Homo sapiens: one gene and its partner. The protein of the gene in region 1 purifies or fractionates together with the protein of each later gene. This does not show direct contact. Each region holds a gene or a part of one and is shown on either strand. Other genes may lie near its edges.

What was found.
Region 2: the proteins of ASB16 (region 1) and SPDL1 purify together in Homo sapiens (affinity purification with mass spectrometry; 2 studies listed by BioGRID and IntAct, with this or other methods). This does not show direct contact.

What each region holds. Positions count from the first base shown.
Region 1 is NC_000017.11:44,165,085-44,174,205, forward strand, and holds the start of ASB16 (ankyrin repeat and SOCS box protein 16), read left to right. Parts: upstream 1-5,619; 5' UTR 5,620-5,705; coding exon 5,706-6,006; intron 6,007-6,961; coding exon 6,962-7,229; intron 7,230-9,121. UniProt on the Homo sapiens protein: May be a substrate-recognition component of a SCF-like ECS (Elongin-Cullin-SOCS-box protein) E3 ubiquitin-protein ligase complex which mediates the ubiquitination and subsequent proteasomal degradation of target proteins.
Region 2 is NC_000005.10:169,593,373-169,601,582, forward strand, and holds part of SPDL1 (protein Spindly), read left to right. Parts: coding exon 1-176; intron 177-772; coding exon 773-922; intron 923-1,021; coding exon 1,022-1,120; intron 1,121-1,198; coding exon 1,199-1,309; intron 1,310-3,188; coding exon 3,189-3,329; intron 3,330-5,103; coding exon 5,104-5,207; intron 5,208-5,599; coding exon 5,600-5,787; intron 5,788-7,907; coding exon 7,908-8,210. UniProt on the Homo sapiens protein: Required for the localization of dynein and dynactin to the mitotic kintochore.

The DNA of each region.
Region 1 (9,121 bases):
CTGAAAGCTCTGCCTCCCGGGTTCACACAATTCTCCTGCCTCAGCCTCCCGAGTAGCTGGGACTACAGGCGCCCGCCACCATGTCCAGCTAATTTTTGTATTTTTAGTAGAGACGGGGTTTCACCTTGTTAGCCAGGATGGTCTCGGACTCCTGACCTTGTGATCCGCCCGCCTCGACCTCTCAAAGTGCTGGGATTACAGGCGTGAGCCACCGCACCCGGCAGTTTATTTGGAATTCTTCTGCATGGGAGATTTGCCTATTCTCCCTTATTTATTCATTCATCCATTTATATCAGCATGGACTTACAGGTATTTATTTTATACTTTGGGATATGATCTCAAACTACTTAATTTTGTTGCCAAGTGTGGCCAGGCGTGGTGGCTCACACCTGTAGTCCCAGCACTTTGGGAGGCCGAGGCAGGCGGATCACGAGGTCAGGAGATCAAGACCATCCTGGCTAACACAGTGAAACCTTGTCTCTATTAAAAATACAAAAAATTAGCCAGGCATGGTGGCGGGCGCCTGTAGTCCCAGCTACTTGGGAGGCTGAGGCAGGAGAATGGTGTGAACCCCGGAGGCGGAGCTTGCAGTGAGCCGAGATCGCGCCACTGCCTCCAGCCTGGGTGACAGAGCGAGACTCCATCTCAAAAAGTAAAATAAAATAAAATTTTGTTGCCAAGCAACTCTTCATTGCTGTGACTTCTCTGTACCAATTTTCGGACTAGAGGTGGACAAGAGGCATGGGTGGGGTGTAAAAGGTCTAATTATACCAAGTTGCCAACCTTGTTTTCCTTTCTGGAAGGAGGAGTTGGGAAAACTCTCCCAACTCATGGGCAAGAGGAGGCAGGTTAAAGAGCCCGGTTTGGGCCAGGTGTGGAGGCTCATGCCTGTAATCCCAGCACTTTGGGAGGCCGAGGTGGGAGGATCCCTTGGGCCCAGGAGTTCAAGCCCAGCCTGAGCAAGGTGGTGAGATGCTATCTCTTGAATAAGTAAATAAAATAATAAATAGCCCTGTTTGACAGCCAGCCCCTCCTGCCTTAGCCTCAGCCTGCACTAAGCAGCTAGGAGACAGAGGCCTTCCATGGGCATGGGCTTGGCACTCCTCTGGGGGGAAGCGTTAATCTCCTTTTCCCAAAGAGGCTGATCCCATGGATTCCAGTTTTGTTGTTGTTGTTGTCGTCGTTTTAGAGACATGGTCTCACTCTGTCACCAAACTGGAGTGCAGTGCAGTGGTGTGATCATGGCTCACTGCAGCCTCGATCTCCTAGGCTTAAGCAGTCCTCCCATCTCAGCCTCCCAAGTAACAGACTACTGGTGCGTGCCACCACGCCTAGCTAATTAACAACATTTTTCTGTAGAGATGGAGTCTTGCTGTGTTCTCCAGACTGGTCTTGAACTCCCGGGCTCAAGTGATCCTTCCCACCTCAGCCTCCCAAAGTGCTGGGATTACAGGTGTGAGCCACAGTGCCCCACTGGATCCCAGTCTTAAGGCTGAAGTGAGTAAGTGCTTTGAGAACTCCATGTTCACTTACCTGCTGATTACAGCAGGGCCCTGTTCTAGAGGCTTTTGTGCCACAAGGCCAGGGCAAGAAGGGGCTAATTCCCCTGCACCCTGGTCCCTTCACATTCCCATTGGGTTTTTCTACCTGAACCTACCATACATTTCCTTCTCTCCCACCTTCCACTCCCTGCTAACTCCCCATCTACACTGGGATCTTCCTGCACCTAAACCCCCACAGCTGGGAGTGGCAGCATGCACCTGTAGTCCCAGCCACTTGGGAGGCTGAGGTGAGAGAATCACTTGAGCCTAGAAGATTGAGACCAGCCTGGGCAACATAGGGAGATTTCGTCTCTAAAAAAATAAAAGCTCCCCTCTGCCCTGGGCCTATTCCCCATTCTTGACACCCATGAGCCCCGGTCCCCCTGCTCAGTCCTGATCAATCCCACGCTCACATCCTGGCTTCTTGTGTGCTTCACTACCCCACAGGCTCTGAGATCCCAGAAGGCAGGCTGGGCATCTGATCACCTGGCCCTGTTCCCTCCAGGTTGAAGTCAAGGCCTCCTTTCTCTGCCCTCAGGAAGCTAACTCTACAGACAAGGGGACTGAATACAGTGGTATCTTGGGACTAAGCTGTTAGGGTACCTAGCTCCTTCAGGTCTGTGTGGCAAGAAGGCAGGGGAGGGGCTAGGCTATGACTCTTGTGTGCCTCAGGGAGGAAGGGGACACCCACCTGCCTTGGCCTCTCTTGGTCTCACCCAGCCTTGCCAGATTCTCAACCCTGGGAACCCAGCTGTGGGTGCCCAGCCAGGCCGTTGATGTGGCAATTAACACACCAAATGGGTGCCAACAGGGTTCATCAAGGCTGCATTTATAGAGGCATCTTTCTCTGAGGACCTCCAGGCTTTGCTTTGTATGATCTAATTCCTCCTCTGGGATCCCCCACCCTGGACTGCCACCAAGAGGCTGGAGCCAGGCAGAGAGTAGGTGAACAGTAGAGTAGGGGCAATGCCGGAAAAAGCCCAGGCTGCTGCCACCCACTTGGGCGGGCGGGTGGATGGATGTTTGCTCTGGCAGAGAACAGGGACCTTCGTTCAATGCACTACACATAAGAGGCCCGCCTGCCATGAGCCAAGTGCTCTGACTGCCAGGGCCTGCTCTGGAGCCCACATCCAGCATGGCAGACCCACATCAACAGCATAGATAGGTGCTTTACAGCGTGCCCCTGAGTCCTTCAGGAGTGCAGATTGGGCAGTGGCTGGAACTATAAGAGTCAGGCAATGGGTTGCTGAAGAGACCTCTCAGAGCAGGTGACCTTAGGGGTAGATCCTCAGGAAGGTGTTGAGGGAATTCTGAGCTAAGGGAATGGCCTGACAGGGAACGGTTGTGGGGAGCCGTGCGTGATGAGGATGCCTACCCTACGTGAGTGGCATGGGGCCAAACCAAGGAATTGGGGGCTTAGTTGAAAAGGGCAGGCCAGGTGCAGTGGCTCACACCTGTAATCCCAGCAATTCAGGAGGCTGACTTGGGAGGACTGCTTGAGGCCAGGATTTGGAGCCCTATTTTAAAAAAATGAAAGGACAGGTATTGGAAGGCAGCAGAAGTTTTTAAGCAAGGGAATTAACCATTTTAGACAGATCATTCCGGCAGCGGAGCAGAAGGGATATGGCCAGAGGAAGAAACACCAGGTGAAAGACTGAGTTGATCCAGGTTTAAGGCATTACATCGAGGGGCTGAACTTGAGACAGTCCCTGAAAATGTAAGAACAGGAGCTAGAACTTGCTTATGGGAAGGGCCTAGGGAGAGGAAGAAATAAAAGATCACTGGGCAAGGTGCTGCTGCAGGGCCAGGAGGCAGGACAGGCAGCGGGAGAAGGGCCAGGAGGAGCCCCAGATGCAGAGGGGACAGACCAGCCCTGCCTGCAGGCCGCTGTGCACTGAGTGAGCTCAGGGTGAGCAGAGCTTTTGAGCCCTCCCCTTCCCCAGCTTGGCAGGCACACCAGCTTGTGTGGTTTCACGGCTTCATTCCTCCCCCTAGAGGCTCCTGGAAGCACAGCTGCTTTCTCCTAAGAGTGAACAGGTCTGTGGCTTAAACATCTTAGGTCCATTCCCAGAGTTTCCAGCTCAACCCCTTGGCTCTCCTCAGGCCGGCCATGTGAGCCCCCTTAGCAGCTGGGTTAAAAAAATAAATCAAGGATGATTGAAGGTGCTGGGAGCTGTGGCTCACGCCTGTAATACCAACACTTTGGGGGGCCGAGGCGGGCAGATCGCCTGAAGTCAGGAGTTTCAGACCAGCCTGGCCAACATGGCGAAACCGACTACTAAAAATACAAAAATCGGCCGGGCGCGGTGGCTCACGCCTGTGATCCCAGCACTTTGGGAGGCCGAGGCGGGCGGATCACGAGGTCAGGAGATCGAAACCATCCTATTCTTGGCTAATACGGCGAAACCTTGTCTCTACTAAAAATACAAAAAATTAGCCAGGTGTGGTGGCAGGCGCCTGTGGTCCCAGCTACTCGGGAGGCTGAGGCAGGAGAATGGCGTGAACCCGGGAGGCGGAGCTTGCAGTGAGCCGAGGTCGCGCCACTGCACTCCAGCCTGGGTGACAGAGCGAGACTCCATCTCAAAAAAAAAATAATAATAAATAAAAATACAAAAATCAGCTGGGCATGGTGGCATGCACCTATAATCCCAGCTACTCAGGCAGCTAAGGCAGGAGAATCACTTGAACCCCAGGAAACGGAGGTTTCAGTGAGCCGAGATCACCCCACTGCACTCCAGACTGGGTGACACCATGAGAAAAAAAAAAAAAGGATGATTGAAGGCAGTTTCTACAGACTAGTCTGTCCTGCTTGGAGAATGGGGGAGGCTGCCAGGTGGCTGCAGCAGCTGAAGGCAAAAAGTGTACCATCTTTTTTTTTTTTTCTTCTTTTTTTAAGAGATGGAGAGGCAGGGGGTGGTGGCTCACGCCTATAATCCTAGCACTTTGGGAGGCCGAGGCGGGCAGACCACGAGGTCAGGAGTTCGAGACCAGCCTGGCCAACATGGTGAAACCCTAAATTAAATCTCTACTAAAAATACAAAATTTAGCTGGGCATGGTGGCGGGTGCCTATAATCCCAGCTACTCAGGAGGCTGAGGCAAGAGAATCGTTTGAGCCCGGGAGGCGGAGGTTGCAGTGAGCCAAGATCGTGCCATTGCACTCCAGCATGGGAGACAGGGTGAGACTCTGTCTCAAAAAAAAAAAAAAAAAAAAAAAAGATATAGGTCTCACTGTGTTGCCCAGGATTGTCTCAAACTCCTAGGCTCAAGCAATCCTCCTGTCTTGGCCTCCCAAAGTGCTAGGATTACAGGCATGAGCCACCATTCTTGGCCCAAAGCACACCATCTATGTGGGGTCCTGGCTCTGCCTCTCACAAACTGTGACCTTGAGCCAGTAGATTACTTTGTTAAGCCTTAAATTCCTCATCTGTAAAACAGAGATAAGACCACCCATCTCAGGGGCATTCAACTGTGATAATTTCATTTATTGTCCAAACCAAGTTTACTAATTATTGGGTGGGCTGGGAAGTATGATCCCCTGGGTGAAGGTGGATATGAATGTGATTTAAACACCGTGAAACTCTGTGCATATGTACAGAGTTATTGCTGTTACTGCAGATGCTGGGAAGAGCTGCTCACCTTCTCAGTAACTCTGCCTTGACCTCCCCTTACCTCCTGTGCTGAGGTCAGCCCTCTCTCCTCCACGTGGGCCAATGGTGGCTCCTGCCCTCCAGCCAACATCAGAGAGGCTGGAGGCACCTTGTCTTCCTCCCAGCCCTGCCCATCTCCATGACTGACCTTTTTGCGCACCCTGGACCTTGCCAACCCAAGATGCTCGCTCTAGAGATGAAGGTGGATGCAGATGCTGGGGTTCGGGGGTGGCCTCAGCTGAGGGCCTGCTGACCAACCAAAGGGTATCGGCAGGGGCAGGGGCTGGCCCTCACCCTGGGCTGGGGGTTGGGCCAGCAGCTTCTCAGCACCAGGATCATGACTCTGAGCAAACCATGTTTACCAGAGCAGCAAAGGACCTATTTATAGCCTCAGCTGCTGCTTTCTCTGGCTCACGGTGGCGGGGGCAGGGTGGCTCCTCAGAGCAAGGGAGGTAGTCGGGTCGAGGGAACCTGGCTCTGCCCAGGTGCCACTGCCCAAACCCCTGGGCCCCATCCATGGCAAGAGAGACCTTCCCCTTCACCTCCTCCATGCTGCGCTCTCTCCGCCTGCAGCAGGAGTGGCTGGAATGGGAGGACCGGCGGCGGGCGGCTGCCCAGCAGTGCCGGAGCCGCAGGTGCCCGTCAAGTCCCCGGGCCCGACTCACTAGGCCTCACCGTTCCTGCCGAGACCCAGCTGTCCACCAAGCCCTCTTCTCCGGCAACCTGCAGCAGGTCCAAGCCCTGTTCCAAGATGAAGAGGCCGCCAACATGATTGTGGAGACTGTGAGCAACCAGCTGGCCTGGTCGGCTGAACAGGGTAGGGGGCACCAGAAGAGGGCAGAAGAGGAGGGAGAAAGAAGGGGAGTGGGTGGGGAAGGGGGAGAGTCTAGGCCCCTCCTTCCCTGCAGACCACAGACTATAGCAGCCCTTTCCACCACCTATCCTAGCTCCCTCCTAAACAGAGATGAGGCAGGGTTAGCAGTCTGTATGTCTTTTAAGAATTAAAAGTTGACCGGGCACAGTGGCTCACGCCTGTAATCCCAGCACTTTGGGAGGCCAAGGCAGGCGGATCACGAAGTCAGAAGTTTGAGACCAGCCTGACCAACATGGTAAAACCCCATCTCTACTAAAAATAGAAAAATTAGCCGGGCATGGTGGTGCGCACCTGTAATCCCAGCTACTCAGCAGCTGAGGCAGAAGAATCACTTAAACCCGGGAGGCGGAGCTTGCAGTGAGCCAAGATAGCGCCACTGCATTCCAGCCTGGGGGACAGAGCGAGACCCTGCCTAAAAAAAAAAAAAAAAGAGACAAGGTCTCACTATGTTGCCCAGGCTCATCTCGAACTCCTGAGGTCAAGTGATCATCCCGCCTTGGCCTCCCAAAGTGCTAGGATTACAGGTGTGAGCCACCACCCCAGGCCCCAAGGTGAACAAGCCTTTGACACTATTAGCCATTCAAAGACGCTGAGATTTCCTTAATGGGAGTCACTCTACTTAGTTGGCCCCTGTGGTTTTATACAGCAATTAATTTTTTTATGACACATACTATGTTTTGTTACAGATTGATAAGCTGTATTAAAAGGCTGTTCCAATTTATTCTTCCACTTCAGGACTTGAATAAGCCCCCTTCCACAGGTACAGCCTGGCAGTGTTTGTGCTCAGCAAACCATGCAGAGGGAAGGCCAGTGTCAGCTGTCAGCTGGAACCAGCATCCCCACTCCCTGCCCTGCCCTGTCTTATACACCACCTCCCAAAACTATTTGCTCTCCCTAGGGTTCTGGGTGCTGACCCCCAAGACCAAGCAGACGGCACCCCTCGCCATCGCTACAGCCCGAGGCTACACAGACTGTGCTCGACACCTGATCCGGCAGGGAGCTGAGCTGGATGCCCGTGTCGGGGGTCGCGCTGCCTTGCATGAGGCCTGTGCCCGAGCCCAGTTTGACTGTGTGCGGCTGCTGCTGACCTTCGGAGCCAAGGCTAATGTGCTGACTGAGGAGGGCACGACTCCTTTGCACCTCTGCACGATCCCCGAGTCCTTGCAGTAGGTGCCTGGGGGCTGAGACAGTTTGGGGAGAAATGTGTGTGTGTGTCTCCAGCTCACAAGGCCAGAAGAGGGAACCTGACAACCACATGCAGCTTTGTGGTTCATAAAGCACCGCATATACACATCTTCACAATAACCTGGAGACACCTCATCCTACAGATGAGAAAAATGAAGCTCAGAAAGGCTTAGTAACTTGTCCAAGGTCACATCTGCTAAGCCCAGGAGGCAGAAGCCCTGTTGCTTTTTGGGAAAACTCTGTTCCAACTGCAGTCTCCAATACCCTGTGAATCCTTTGTAGCCAAACCTAGCTGTTTTTTTTTGTTTTTTGAGACGAAGTCTTGCTCTGTTGCCCAGGCTGTAGTGCAGTGGCGTGGTCTCAGCTCACTGCAACCTCTGCCTCCTGGGTTCAAATGCCTCAGCCTCCCAAGTAGCTGGAATTACAGGTGTGTGCCACCACACCTGGCTAGGTTTTGCATTTCTAGTGGAGATGGGGTTTTGCCATGTTGGCCAGGCTGGTCTTGAACTCCTGTCCTCAAGTGATCCACCCACCTTGGCCTCCCAAAGTGCTGGGATTACAGGCGTGAGCCACCATGCCCAGCCCAAATTCCTAGTTGTTTTGAGGTATTAAGAAAGATCTGGCCAGGTGTGGTGGCTCACACCTGTAATTCCAGCTACTAGTAGGTCGAGGCACAAGAATCGCTTGAACCCGGGAGGCAGAGGTTGCAGTGAGCCGAGATTCTGCCACTGCACTCCAGCGAGACTGTCTTAAAAAAAAAAAAAAAAAAAAAAAAGCCGGGCGCCATGGCTCACGCCTGTAATCCCAGCACTTTGGGAGGCTGAGGCGGGTGGATCACGAGTTCAGGAGTTCAAGACCAGCCTGGCCAACATAGTGAAACCCCGTCTCTATTAAAAATACAAAAAATTAGCCAGGCTGGGCATGGTGGCTGGCGCCTGTAATCCTAGCTACTCGGGAGGCTGAGGCAGGAGAATCGCTTGAACCCGGGATGCAGAGGTTGCAGTGAACCGAGATTGTGCCACTACACACTAGCCCCTGCAACAGTTGAGACTCCATCTCAAAAAAAAAAAGACCTATGGGCCAGATTCAGTGGCTCACACCTGTAATCCCAACACTTTTGGAGGCGGAGGCAGGAGGATTGCTTGAGTCCAGGAGTTTGAGAATAGTTTGGGCAACGTAAGTGAGGTTTTTGTCTCTACTAAAAATAAAAACTAGCCGGGTATGGTGGCATGAGCCTCTAGTCCTAGCTACTCGGGAGGCTGAGGCAGGATGATCTTTTGAGCTCAGAAGTTCAAGACCAGACTGGGAAACATAGTGAGACCCTGTCTCTACAAAAAATAAAATTAGCCGGGCATGGTGGTGTGCATTGTAGTCCCAGCTACTCAGGAAAAGCATTTGAGCCCAAGAGGTCTAGGCTTCAGTGAGCTATGATCATGCTGCCACTGTACTCCAACCTGGACAACAGGGCGGGACCCTGTCTTAAAAAAAAGTGGGAAGAGAGGTATGGGGGTGCCTCACACCGATGTTAGGAAACACAGGGCTAGATTTTTTTTTTGGAGACAGGGTCTCACTCTGTTGCCCAGGCTGGAGTGCAGTGGCACAATCATGACTCACTTGCAGCCTCGATCTCCTGGGCTCAAGTGATCCTCCTGCCTCAGCTTCCAGGGTAGCCGGAATCACAGGCCAGTGCTACCACACCTGGCTATTTTTTTTTTTTTTTTTTTTGAGACGGAGTCTTGCTCTGTCTCCCAGGCTGGAGTGTAGTGGCCCGATCTCGGCTCACTGCAAGCTCCGCCTCCCGGGTTCCCGCCATTCTCCTGCCTGAGCCTCCCGAGTAACTGGGACTACAGGCTCCCGCCAACACGCCCGGCTA
Region 2 (8,210 bases), on another chromosome or scaffold:
AATTAGATGAAGCCAGGCTTAGTGAAAAGCAGCTGAAGCACCAAGTAGATCATCAGAAGGAACTCCTCTCTTGTAAATCAGAGGAACTGCGCGTAATGTCTGAACGTGTGCAGGAAAGCATGTCTTCAGAGATGCTGGCTCTTCAAATTGAGCTGACAGAAATGGAGAGTATGAAGGTAATTTTTATGGCATGTGTTTCTCAGGGTTTTCTCTTTTTTTTTCTGGCATATTTTTACATGTTTTGGTAATAATTCTTAAGAGCTAGTTTGAAGGCTGAAACATTTTTTGACCTAACTTGCATCTAACTAATTAAAAAATGGGTTTTTTTTAGGTGGATGACTTCATTCATAATATAGCTTTAGACTATATGATTATGTAAGGCAGCCTTTCTCTTAGATTAATGAAACGTCTGGAAGAATTTAGAGGCATATACTCTGATCCCAGATTTTATCGTAAGAGCCCAGTGTAAAACGTTGGCTCAGTGGAAGTTGAAATGCATGTGAACTTGGTTTTTTCATTGAAAGCTAAGGTTAATTAAAAATTAAAGCCTGAAATTGATAGAGGAAAAAGGGCAGTCTCTAAAGCCATTTGTTTCCTTGTTGAAAAATTTAACAGTAATAGTAATTTCTATTATTTTAGAATGTACCTGACAACTTTTGACTGGTTCTTTAGTTTTAATTTTGGATGTGAACCACAACTGAGATAAACTGAGCAGCTGCCAAATGAAAGATTATTCAAGAGAATTTCCTCCTTTTCAATTCCTGTTAAATAGACCACCCTCAAAGAAGAAGTGAATGAACTACAATACAGACAAGAACAGCTAGAACTTCTTATTACTAACCTAATGCGCCAGGTAGACCGGCTTAAAGAGGAAAAAGAGGAGCGAGAGAAAGAAGCAGTTTCTTACTATAATGCCCTAGAGGTACTATGATTACAGTAACATCATGTTTTCCAATTTATCATAACTTATTTTCTTGCTAATGTAATCTCTGTTGCCTAAATTGTTTTCTTTTGAATTTAGAAAGCTCGTGTAGCAAATCAAGATCTTCAGGTACAGTTGGACCAGGCACTCCAGCAAGCCTTGGATCCCAATAGTAAAGGCAACTCTTTGTTTGCAGAGGTACTTATAAGTATCCTAACTACTAAATTGGTATTTTCATTTACTACCAGAACAATTAAGCATGTTAATATTTTGTAGGTGGAAGATCGAAGGGCAGCAATGGAACGTCAGCTCATCAGTATGAAAGTCAAGTATCAGTCACTAAAGAAGCAAAATGTATTTAACAGAGAACAGATGCAGAGAATGAAGGTATAGAACTTTCACTATCAAAGGTTTATTAAACAAATTTTGTGTCAGCATTACATGTATGAATACATCAAAGAAACTAGCTTTTTCTGCAAGGAGTGTACTTATATAGTTGTTTCTAGAACTGCATGATTTCAAAAAATCAATTTTGAAATTAAAAGATTCATTTATAGTTTAAAAATCTTGGAATAAATATTTAGTAATAGTATATTTAGCAATGATTATTGTTTGTTTTAATGGTTACTCACTAGCTTTGACTTAAATCTTTCTTTGTGGAGTAGAAGAAAGAAAAGTATTTATTTCTTATTCTTGGCCTGATGTCTTTCCAAGCATAGCCCTAGGGTTCCTACTTCAGCTGAAACTCGCTGCCTCACCATTCCTCTGCTCTTTCACCAAGGCTTATTATGGAGTGAAATTTGGATTATTCAGGGTTCCCTTTCCTTGTAGCTCCTCAAGTCAAGCACATAGACCCTTTTAATTTTACGGGTTTTGTTGGTTGTCATTCTAGCCAAATAAGAGGTAGCAGAAAAACATGTGGGAATTAGAAAGATTTCAGTATTGTAACAGTCCTTAGAATCCTGATCCCTCATCCATTGTGCCTCACTCTACTGAGGTAGTAATTGGAATCTGGAAAGGCTTCCTTCCTTTTATTCAGAATCATGGGCTTTGCCAAAGAAATGGGAAAGGTTAATGATTAAATTTGGGAGTTAGGTGGATTTGGGTTTGAATCATAGTTTTGTCACTTGCTAGCTCTGTGACCTTGGACAAGTATTTTAACTTTGAAAGCAACAGTACCTCATCTATTAAGTGAAGATGATAGAACCCCCTCTTAGAATTGTCCTACAGTTAAATGAAAGTGTAGTAAAATACTTAACCTGCTACTTGGCAAATGAGTGTTTAATGAACAACAGCTGTGAATTTTATTTCTAAGGGTTTCCAGACTGTGCTGCCTCATTTCCTGAGACTCTCCCCTGTCTGGGAAGTATTTCTTTATAAATTTTCTCACGTTTACTTTAGTTTTCTTACAGTATTTGTTGGGGTTACTTTTAATCTACCAATGTTGCATATGTCCCAAACTATCTTTAGAGACTAGAAGCATTCTGAGTCTTAGGCTAAGTGGGCCTAGCCTCCAATCTGAAACAGGAACAAAAAGGATATCCTTTAAAATGTTAAAAGTCATCTGCAACCTCATATCATTGATTGTTTTACTCAAAACTATATTTAAACTAATAGGCACTCTTTTCAACTCCAGAAATTTCCAAAGGCAGAAAGAAATGCTAGATTTAGAGTCTACTTAATTTCCCTCTGGTAGCTTCACAACTCCAGATTTGGGGTGGGGGAGGTATAATGAGGTAAGTTGAGTGCTGCTCTAAAAAAATTAAAACATGGTATATTGAAGATTACCCCAGTATACTAAGATAGCCTTTTATCTTTGCTTTTAACGTCATTTGTGAATCTAACATTTGTGGCTGTCAGTAGCTTAGTTTTCCTCACTTAATTAAAGTTAATTAAAAATTTTGAGAAACCCATCAGAACCTTAATAAGAGCGAGTGCTTATGATAAGCAGTCTGCAGCGTTTGGCCAGGCTTACTTACCAGTTCAGTGGTGTGCTTTCAGACCACAGCCATGCAAGTCAGTTTTATGTTTCACAAAAGTACAAATAATTACATTACAGACTTCAGTTATCATTCATAAGTAGTCAAAATAAGTATTCAAATGTTATGTCTACAAAAAAATTTATTATTAGATTAGAAATAGCTAATTTAGTTTCCAAAATGAGTTCAAAGTAATATAGTACAAATTATGAATTGTATCAAAAAAGTAGTTATCAGAATCTTTCTCTCACTTAATTTTATTAGAGGGGGTAATTTTATTTTTCTAGTTACAAATTGCCACGTTGCTACAGATGAAAGGGTCTCAAACTGAATTTGAGCAGCAGGAACGGTTGCTTGCCATGTTGGAGCAGAAGAATGGTGAAATAAAACATCTTTTAGGTGAAATTAGAAATCTGGAGAAATTTAAGGTATGTATAACAGTTAAAAAAACACACATCCAAATTTTGATTTGAATATCTTAAAATTTGGTTTGTTTTTTAAGTTTAAATTATTAATAAATATCTTGTGGGAGATACTTTGAGACTAAGTAAATGGCTGTTTCTCCTTATACTTAAACATCCATTGGTGATTCTTGCCTGAAACATAATTCTGTGATGATTGCTAAATGGGTAATTCCATCACTTCTTCTATATTTATTAGTTGGAATTTTAGTAAAGGGACAGAAAAGAAAAATCTTTTTCCTCACTTACTCATTCATTTATATCAGTATAGCCTCATGGATTCTTATTTTATCCTATGAGTTATAATCCATTGCTTGCTTTATTTACTCTGATACTCAAATTGTCCCAGATTTGATAGTCGAAGTGCTCTTACTTGAATATTTCCTTACTCTATGGCACAACAAGGGTTTCCTAGCTCACCTGGCCCACTTCTGGGATTAGCATTTCTTCAAGGAACATTGGTTTATTTTAGTTGAGAATGGTATTTGTGTAAGCATTTGTGTGTGTGTGTGTGTGTGTGTGTGTGTGTGTGTAAGAATTCACCCATGTTTTCTAAATAAGTAGGCAGTTGTCCCAGAGTCATTTGTTAAAAAATCAATCTTGATCCCAGTGATTTGAGTTGACACCTTTATCATACATCAAGTTTCCATATATACTTGAGTCTGTTTCTAAATTTTCTGTCTACGCCATTGGTCTGCTTCTCTGTGTGTCTGTACCACACTGTTTTATTAATTATAAAGGCTTTTAAGTATGTTTATCTGGTAGGACTATTTCCTCACTATACTTTTTATTTTTCAGTATTTTCCTGTCTATTTTTGAATGTTAGCTTTCATTTACAAACATCTTGTCTAGCACCAAAAAAAGCTTGTTGGCTTTCTATTAAAATTGCATGCAATTTAAGATTTTATAAATTGACTTAGGGAACATTGATATCTTCATTAACCTCCTAATGAACTAAAGTTCTAAATGACAAATTTTTGTAAATGTTAATAACCTCTTAGGCATTCTAAATTGTAGCCATTAGTATGTCATAAAATCTTAATTAAGTTTACATAACTTTATTTCTGTGTCTTATAAAAACTGTTGAAAGAACTACAAATTTGGTTAAGTTGGCAGCCTTATGTTTCCATCAGTGGGCTCAGAACTATACTCTGAAAATTATGGCCTTAAATCAGGGGAATTTTATTTATAACCTGAAATTGTTTCAAGTTTTTAAGCAGATTTACCTTTTCTATCCCACTAGAGAAATGTATAGTTTCCATCAGTCTCAGAAGAGCTTGCACTACATTCTTGCCTGGGGTGGGGGGAAGAATCTCAGAAGAGGGGGACACCAGATATAAATGTAAGGCTCTCATCTTCCTTTCATATTTTTCCAGTTTATGGTTTTGTTACAAAGGCCAGAATTTAATCCAGCAGGCATTTGTTTTTCTATTTTCAAAGCCAGGAGAGAGAAGGCAGAGCATGTAGGTAAGGCTAGAAGCCTAGGCCTTGTAGTCAGATTTGGGTTCAGGTTCTCTCTTCTTGGTTTACTTTCATCTGTATTCGGAGCCTGTTTCCTTATCTGTAAGAGAGGAATGTTAATTATTTACCTACTTCAGAAGGCAGATAAATTAAATGGGTAGTTCTTAGCGTAGTACGCCAAGGGATATAAATTCAGGAAGTGATGGTGCTATTATTAATAAACATACACTAACCTTATTTGTTATTTATTTTAAGTAATACAAACTTTTGCTTTTTTAAGAATTTATATGACAGTATGGAATCTAAGCCTTCAGTCGACTCTGGTACTCTGGAAGATAACACCTATTATACAGATTTACTTCAGATGAAGCTGGATAACTTAAAGTAAGTGTCTGGGTTGGTGGATGGAAAGATGAACATGTCACTTGCTTACTATGGTAGTGTCAGTGACTACAAAGTTTTTTTGAAATTGCCAAAGGAAATTTTCCGAAAAGAAAGGTAACAAAAATATCTTTGTGCAGATATTCATGTGTGAATACATTTGAAAGACTATTTCCTCCTTTGTCCATTTCCTTTCAAGAATGCATGAGTATTTTTTAAATTTAACACTACTATTGTTAAGGATTATTTAAATTGTTTATTGTTTCTTTGTTACTAAAAACCCCAGAAAAATGTATTTTTAACTAAGAATTCAAATATGCGATGAAATATTTATACCACTACACTTATTATATGCTGTCTTAATACTCGTTGGTTCTCCTTTTTTATTATCATAGCAAAGAAATTGAAAGCACTAAAGGTGAATTGTCCATACAGCGAATGAAAGCATTATTTGAGAGCCAGCGGGCTCTAGATATTGAGCGAAAACTTTTTGCAAATGAAAGATGCCTCCAGCTTTCAGAAAGTGAAAATATGAAACTGAGAGCTAAACTAGATGAATTGAAACTAAAATATGAACCTGAAGGTATATATGTCTCATATATTTTTGTCTTTTAAATTATGAGTAACCTGAAATTATATCAAATTATTTTCTTACTGTAGTTTTATGCAACTCTATTACAAACTCATTTGTAGTTATATACCTATAGTTAATAAAGCAAATTTATTGTGTAAAATAGGTAGGAAAATTCAGGGAGAACTGGATACTGGGTGTGCCTGAATATAACATGTATCCTTTTTGGATATCTAATTTCATCATACTGTATAGTAGAAACTTGAGATTTGAGACTTTCCCATTTTAAGATTACAGTATTTTATGTCATACCTAATAGTTTAATTATGTTGAAGCAGCTGATGTTTGGAAGCTATACGAGGTAGGACTGTTTATAGAAAATCTAAAGTAATGGAGACTTTAAAAAGGTGGGTCTTTATCTCTGCCTCTGATGGAAGTCTGGAGGAGGCCTTCCAGGACTGGGAAAGCACTCCACGGTATCAAGATTCAGGCTTCTTGTGTTTGTTGGTCTGCTGCCATCCTGTGGAGCAGAATTTAGTCATGCAGCCTCACCTGCTGACAGGAAGGGCTGAGAAATGCAGTCTTGATTCTCAGGGGCCATGTTCCTAACTAAATATTGGGAATTCTTTTATTAAGGAAGAACAGTGAGCCAGGCGTGGTGGCTCGTGCCTGTAATCCCAGCTCTTGGGGAGGCAGAGGGAGGAGGATAGCTGTGCCCAGGAATTTGAGATTTGCTTGGGCAATATAGCAAGACCCCATTCTCCACCAAAATGGGGGGGAAAGGAAAGAACAATGAAACATATTAGGGAATATCTAGCAAGTCTAATGACTGAGCTGGAAAGTAGCCTAACCATACAGTCTCTGCATCTTATATACTACAGAGAGTGAAGTTTACTGTATGTAAATTCAAAAACAAAAGGCCAAGTGTGAAGGAGTCTAAGAATGTGATGGTTCTACAACACCCCTTCCCTAAAAGAGTGTTACATGTTTTAGGTTAAGGATTCTCAACAAGTTTTTGTCCCCGCACTCTGCACATGCCTCAGTCTCTCTTCGTATTGTCTCAGTGAACTGCTATGATTCTCAACAATAGTGGGGAGGTTGCCAAAAATAGGAAGGTTTTTACACAATTTTAAAAGGCTTCTCTTGCTCTTAACTCTTTTTGTTTCTTCCATGATTCTAATAGGCTCCCCTGATTAAGAATTATCCATTATGAATTTCAAACATCTGTTGAACTGAACACAGCAAATAGACAGGAGGCAGGGTAGTGAATCCTGATAATGTGGGTTTCAAAGGAGCAGTGCCAGAAAAAGGGGAAATCATGGTCTAAAAGCAACAATGTAGAGCAAAAACAGCAACCCCTTGTGCTACCAGTGTTCCTCAGACTCCACTAACATTTTGATTTTGAAAATGAAACACATCGATAATGGGCATAGGGAAAAGATATTAGAGCAGTTAATTCAGTGGCTGTGTTTATGACCTGTTTAGATAGAATGATATTAGGCCATGAGGATAGAAGGCATTGCAGTAGTCTTTGATGAGACATGATAGGATTGGACTAGGGAAGTATCCATCATAAAAGTAGTCTGATTCTGCTTATATTTTGTAGGTAGAGCTAACAGGCATATATTACCAATATTCAGAAAGTTTGGCCTATTCTTGTCATTTAATCCTTCTAATACACAATACCAAGTGAAGTGGGTGCTTTTAATCCCCATTTTACAGATAAAATGAAGCTCAGAGAGGTTAAATAATTCCCCAAAGACATGGCTGTCACATACGAGGATTAGGATTCGAACCTGGACTCTGCCGCTGTCTCTTCATCTCCACACTGAGATCTTATGAACCACCTTTTTCAAAACACCAAGAGAGAACAGTGAAGCATTCATGCCTAAAGTCAAAATATTGAATTCCCAAGGAAAAATATATAGCCAAATAAACTTTAAAATATATAGTTTATATAGATTCCATGATAAAGAATAAAAGGTAGAAACAAAGGATGCATTTCAGTGAGGAGATGGTTGCATTTTAAAAGAATGGAAAAAGGTATACATATAACTAGTTCTGGCTTCTTGTGTTGATTGTGTCTTTGTTTTCTTAGATTTTTTCTTTTCCCCACTCGTTTTTATTCTCAGAGACAGTTGAAGTGCCTGTACTGAAAAAGAGGCGTGAGGTGCTCCCTGTGGATATAACCACCGCTAAAGATGCATGTGTCAACAACAGTGCTCTCGGGGGAGAAGTTTATCGATTACCGCCTCAGAAAGAGGAGACACAGTCCTGCCCTAACAGTTTAGAAGATAACAACTTGCAATTAGAAAAATCAGTTTCTATATACACACCAGTAGTCAGTCTCTCTCCTCACAAAAATCTGCCCGTGGATATGCAGCTGAAGAAGGAAAAGAAATGTGTGAAACTCATAGGAGTTCCCGCTGACGCTG